Regions from separate parts of the Homo sapiens genome. Here region 1 is linked to region 2. Evidence: fine-mapped QTL for protein levels in blood plasma. A gene starts in region 2. The other region holds a variant in brackets. All regions are shown on one strand. Distances are between the middles of the regions. Region 1 overlaps LOC105377402 (a long non-coding RNA gene). Region 2 holds the start of ANXA5 (annexin A5).

Region 1 (2,918 bases), 49 kb before region 2:
CCACAAGGAGAGACTCGCCAACAGGCTGTGGTTAGAGAGAACAGCTAGACAAAAGGTACCTGAGTCTCTGATTGAGCTACTGAATTAGCCAACTCTGGGACCTCTGGGCTTCTTGTTACTTGAGATAATGAAGGTCCATATTATTTAAGCCAGATGTAATTGTGTTTTTGTTTACTTTGGGGTTAAATAAAACCAAGTGATATATCCAATATACTCACGATCAATTTCTTTTTTATACAAAGTACCTGAGTTTATTTCTGCTACTTGCTACCAAAGACTATAAACCAGTAGATTGTGGAACTGTGTGTTCCAGGTTTTACCAGGCTGCATGAACAAATGAGGTCACCTTTACATTAGTACTCCAAACACTGATGCTCTCACCCCACACCTGCTTGAGTAGCAGAAAATTCCATGTTTTATTTATATGTTTCTCCTTAAAGGTTTTCAAAAATCTCATGGAAATTCTTAGACTTGCTAAAGATTTACTAGTTACTTGTTTGTTTTTCATTATAATTTTATCAAATAAGCATGTGTTACTAAAATTATTATTTTAATTTTGTCTCTTCTTTAAAGTTTATATAAATTAAATCATAATATATGTATTTTATATCTTGATTCTTTTTTCACTCAACAATGTATATGCAAGATTTATTCACATTATTTGGTGGAGCTGGAGTTTATTTCATTGCTGAATATTCCATTAAATGATATGTAATAATTTAATTTATCCATTCTACTCTAGATATAGACATGGGTTATATCCAATATTTTTCTTGAATATTTTCTGTCCATGGTAGAATTACACTGTCTTTAAAACTGTATATTCTATTTTCATCACTTAACATTTTAGCATAAGCGTTTTTGTGTTGTTAAATTCTATTCCTAAAGATTATCTCTAACAGCTGTATAACACTTCATTATGTGTACATACTATAATTTATTTAACCATTTCCCTAGGGTTTTCATTTAGATTGTCTTCAATTATTTGTTACTATGAATAATGTTATAGTGAACATTTTTTACACAGATTTATATCTGCATTTCAAAGCATTTCCTTAGGTCATTTCCAAAAACTAGAATTACCATGTCAAGCAGTATAAATATTTTAAATCAAATTTCCCTGCAGAAGGGTTGGACTCATTTATTCTTTCATGAGGAAGAAATGAGAGTGCCTATTTCACCTCATCCTTACAAGCACTAAATATGCTTGCATGTTGTTCCCTCTCTCTCCTCCCCTCTCTCATCTCCTTCAAGGGTTTTGATACAAACCTTGATCACTACTTGGTCAGGTACCAAAAAAGGACTTTTTATGTATAAGAAATTCTAGATGAATTAGACCTTCAAAAAGAAAAAGCATTCAACAATAATAAATAAAAATATCCCTGGATTTTTAAAGAGAAAAATAGAAGAGGAAGGAGAATAAAACTGTGGCCGAAACTAACTAGACGCTCACCAAACACACGTTCTCTTCTAAGCACACAACAAAATTACATTAACTAGTCTCCCTTACATTTGTGTCTATAACAGAGTTCTAGCTAATGGAAAATGGGGAGAAGTGGTGCATGCCAA[C/A]AAAACTTCCCATACATCACCCTACTTTCTCCATCTATAGGCTAAATGGAGAAAATTCTAAGGACATAGAGGACAGAGCCATAAAAAGAAAGGAGACTTAGTCCCTAAATGATTACATGAAATTCCCTAAATGATCACATAAAATTCCTCCCATCCAGAAATACTCACACTGAAATGAGTGAGGAATAGATTTGATAAGGTTAAGTGTCTGAGAATTCTGGATTTAGATATTAACAGCAGCTGGAATTGTTTATCTTAACTATCACAAAATATTTATTGAATAATTACTATATTCTAGGTGCTTTGTTAGATGTGTTACTTATGTTTCCCTGTTTAATCATTATAGCAATTTTATGCAGAAGTTCTTATTAGTACCATCTTGAAAATAAGTGATTTTCCCAATTAAAGACAAGTGATTTGCCCAAGAGGGAAGAGTCAGAATTTAAATCTGAGTTCCTCTGATGGCAAAGGCCATGCTCATCACACTATCTCATGCTTGCTGTAAGTGTTTTATATACAGAGGCTGTATAAAACACATAGGGACTATGGTGCATTCATTCAACAATCAATCATTGAATGCACACAGGATCTTTTTTTTTTTACATATGTAATGGGGCCTACATCTTCTCATCTCTAACTTATATCTCTTATAAATATAGAAATTGAAACTTAGTCATTTATATTTAGCTAATGTCATAATAAATTTTTTCATATTTTAAATATCAAGGCCATGTATTTACATGTTTTGAGTAGAGGAAAGTGAGGTGGGGCCATAGAAGGGCAGTAGAGAGATTCCTTCTCGATGATTTTGGGCCTGCATCCCGTTTCCAAGTCCCATGAGGTGCCTGGAATGTGGCAAGGCCTTTGACGCAGTGGCTGATGGAAAGCAATAGGGGATGGGGAATGTTGTAGAGCTGCCTCTTAAGTGAACCACACAGCAAGTCACTACAGTGGACTGTTCAAATCACTATGGCATGTTTTAGGCTGCCTGTGCCTCAATAATAACCTACACAAATTTAGCAATCCTGTTCCTAAAGAGAAAATAATCTGTGAATACACACCTTAAAGCTCCAAATTTACAGAGCAATGTCTATCATCAAAAATTAATTTTAGGTATCTTCCTTTTAATTAGCTTCAGCTAATTAGCTGCTAAACTGTACACTACAGATGCTTCAAATTTGCCCCACAACACTAAGATGAAGACATTTCATGCTATTATCTCTTTTTAAAAATCACATCATGTCAGAATCTAAATTCCTCATCTTTCATATTAATAAAATATTTCCCCAAACTTTATCATGCTTTGTGAGTCACCCCCCCTTCCTCGATATCACAAAAGAAATTGGTGG
Region 2 (2,918 bases):
ACAAGATCTGTGAAATCAGTTTTAGAGTTTTTAAGCCCTGGTATCTTATTCACAAAAGACTGTATAACATGGTCAATATTTAAAGACCTTAAACTATCTTCTCTTTCCTACATTTTTGATAAACATTAATAACAGTAAAGAAACCAGGCGCAGTGGGATTACAGTCCTGAGGCCGAGGCGGGAGGATCACTTGAGGCAAGGAGTTTGAGACCAGCCTGGCCAACATGGTGAAACCCCGCCTCTACTAAAAATACAAAATTAGCTGGGCATGGTGGGGCGCCTGTAATCCCAGCTACTTGGAAAGCTGAGACACGAGAATTGCTTGAACCCGGGAGGCAGAGGTTGTAGTGAGCGAGATCACTACGTCACTGGACTCCAGCCTGGGCGACAGAGTGAGACTCCGTCTCAAAAAAAAAGGAAAAAAAAAAAACAGTAAAGAAAGCCTGTAGTAGATTATCAATTTCTGAAACAGTCCCAAGGCAAATTCAATTGAGAACTCGTTCCACGAGTTCATTGCTTAAGAAAAACAGCGCTTGTGTTTAATCTTTTGGATTAAAAAAAAAATCAGAGCCTACGTCCTACAGTTTTAGTAAAACTGGGCTGAGCAACTGGAAAAAGCCAATGCTCAATCACAGTATTAAAATACAGAAAACTTTGCGGAAAAAAAATAAAGGAAGTCGGGGGGCGGGGTGGGGGGGGAATGCGTTCGCCTCACATGACCACGATGAGCTGTTCTTGCTCCGGTTCTAATTTGAGCTACTCTCTGGATTTTGGGGAAGGCCCACTTTTACACATTCACTCATGAAAAGGGAGCGCACACAAATCCGGCCACGTCACCAGCTGTTGCGCGCGAAGGCAGCTTGGCGGCGTCGGTGCTGGTTCCGGAGGGCGCTCAGCGGGAAGAACCGGGACACAGAAACGGGGGCAGGGAAGCAAAGGGGGAACAAGAAAAGTGGAAGCGATGTCCCCAAAGCAGGTTCCCTTTCCTCCTAAACTTTTTGGCTCTCAGACAAATCCTAAAAGTCCCTCGTCGCAGCATACAAAGTTGTGGGTAAATCCAGCGCAGTGGGGGGCGCACGGCCTTACCTGTGCCATGGCGACTACTCAGGTCAGGGGAAGGTGAAGCAGGACTGCAAAAGAGAAGAAACCTCGGGCTTAGCGCGCCATTTGCAACTCGTGCCCTCCCCAAGCGCAGGTCCGCGGGGACCCGGCGGCGCTCAGACAGCCCGGAGGGCCCCGCCACGGGGCCGACCCGCCCTCTCGCAGCTACCGGGACAGCTCTCGGCCGAGCGTCCGCGCGAATCCAGTGCCCCGCGACCACGCTCTCCTCTCCAGAAGGAGCCCCCTCCCCGGGCTGCGACCACTCACCCAGACTGTGGGACCCAAGTGCCCCGAAACCCCGGGAGAGCGGCGGAGAGCCGGGCGACGGTACGCGGGGCGACGCCGAGATGCAGACGCTGAAGGATCCGGCAGCTGCACCTAGACTGATCCAAGCAACGGAAACGCCAGCGGCCCCACCCCGGCCCTGCCCGGCTTGGCCCGTCCCACCCCCGCCAGGGCCCCAACCGCAGGCCGGCCGCGCCAGCCGGGCCCGCCCCTGCCCCGGCCTCAGCGCGCCTGCGTGGGTCGCGGCTCGTCCCAGTTGGTCTCCCGCGGCGCGGACTGTCCCGCTGGTCTCGCGGGCCTGGGTGGGGAGCGGCCGCAGAGCTGCTGGAACCAGGAGGAGGCGCCGCTCCCCCGAGGGCCCCGGAGACCTCTTGTCCTCGCGCCGCGGGAAGGGCCTGGGGAGCTGTCCAGGGCTCGGGGTTTTGGAGGTGCTTGAGCCTCCCTGCCCTCTGTGACCGCAGGAACCGTAGCCTCACTTGGGTGCTCAACATAGTGCGTGGGCGTCTTTTTGGAGGCGAGACAAAATCATCGCAGCTAAGGACAGCGCGCCTTTGTCGATGGGATAGAAAAAACGTGAAAGGAGGGCCGTTTCCCAAGTTGTTTTTGTTTCTGTTTTGTTTTGTTGTTTTGTTGTTGTTTTAATGCCTATTATTGCTTCCTAGATGGCCCTCTCTTAAATGTACAGCCTTCTAGTAGCGTATGTGGGCTATTTGAAAACCTCTGCTTCCAATCAGTTTCTGTTTTCAAAACTAGCCTAGAACTTTAATATGACTTAAATTTGAGCAATGCCTCATATTGGTTCAACATAAAATATATGAGTATATGAGAGAGAGGGGGAGGGAGGGAGAATCTACAGCGTATTGTACTAGCATGGTGCTGTGTTCTGTGAAAGGGCTTTATATGCAAAGCAGCCCCCAAACGCGAAGGAGTCAAGAAACCAAAGAACGAGACAGACAAATCCAGTCTGTAGGTAATAGGGGTGCTATTGGAGGATGTGGTAGACAGAAGCGTGGCCTTGGGCGGCGGCAAGCAGATAAATTTCTGCACTGTTACTCCCCAGACCCTGGCCTTATATACCGTAAGGAAAGAGTATACTGCTCTGTGCAAGACAATTAAAGGCAGCCCTCCGGAACAGGTGAGAATGCCGTATGCTTCATAGCCTACAATGTGGGCAATAGCATCAAGGTTGACATGTTCTTATGCTAAGGACAGTTTAAAAAAAAAATCCTAGGAATCAGGAGGTATTCATGGGACTGGGGTTATTAAAGGTCAACATGGCGGATTAGCATCCGGGATATAATCACTTTTGTCTCCATATGCTGGAAAAGGAAAAGTAGAAGACACAGGGACCTTCTCAGACTTACTGGTGTGGGGAGGGAAGGTGCCAGGGCAGAGGGGGCAAGAGGACAAGTTTGCGACACTAGATGCAGTGTTCTAGACATATGCTAGAATGGGAAGGGCAAAGTGCTTCTCAACGTGGAGGTTAAGGGTAAGAGATGAGGATCTAGTCTTCTTTGAGAATGAGGAAGAAT

The links. A credible set is the group of variants that fine-mapping cannot tell apart. PIP is the chance, under the fine-mapping model, that this variant and not a neighbour inherited with it causes the effect. Protein levels are from antibody-based Olink assays in UK Biobank. Linkage for the fine-mapping came from a reference panel and not from the study's own genotypes, which makes the PIPs less certain.
Region 1: its variant is the best candidate, but not a certain one, in a credible set for the plasma level of the ANXA5 protein (UK Biobank, PIP 0.87).

The regions. Positions count from the first base shown.
Region 1 is chr4:121,646,256-121,649,173 of GRCh38, forward strand. All of the region lies in intron 2 of LOC105377402 (a long non-coding RNA gene), which reads right to left. Among named protein-coding and RNA genes, the nearest start is that of ANXA5, 49 kb to the right of the region's middle. The variant C/A (reference allele first, on the strand shown) is at 1,570.
Region 2 is chr4:121,695,495-121,698,412 of GRCh38, forward strand. It overlaps ANXA5 (annexin A5), which reads right to left and starts at 1,486. Exons shown (of 13, transcript NM_001154.4): 1 at 1,369-1,486; 2 at 1,087-1,130. The coding sequence starts at 1,095. RefSeq lists a silencer at 1,435-1,854.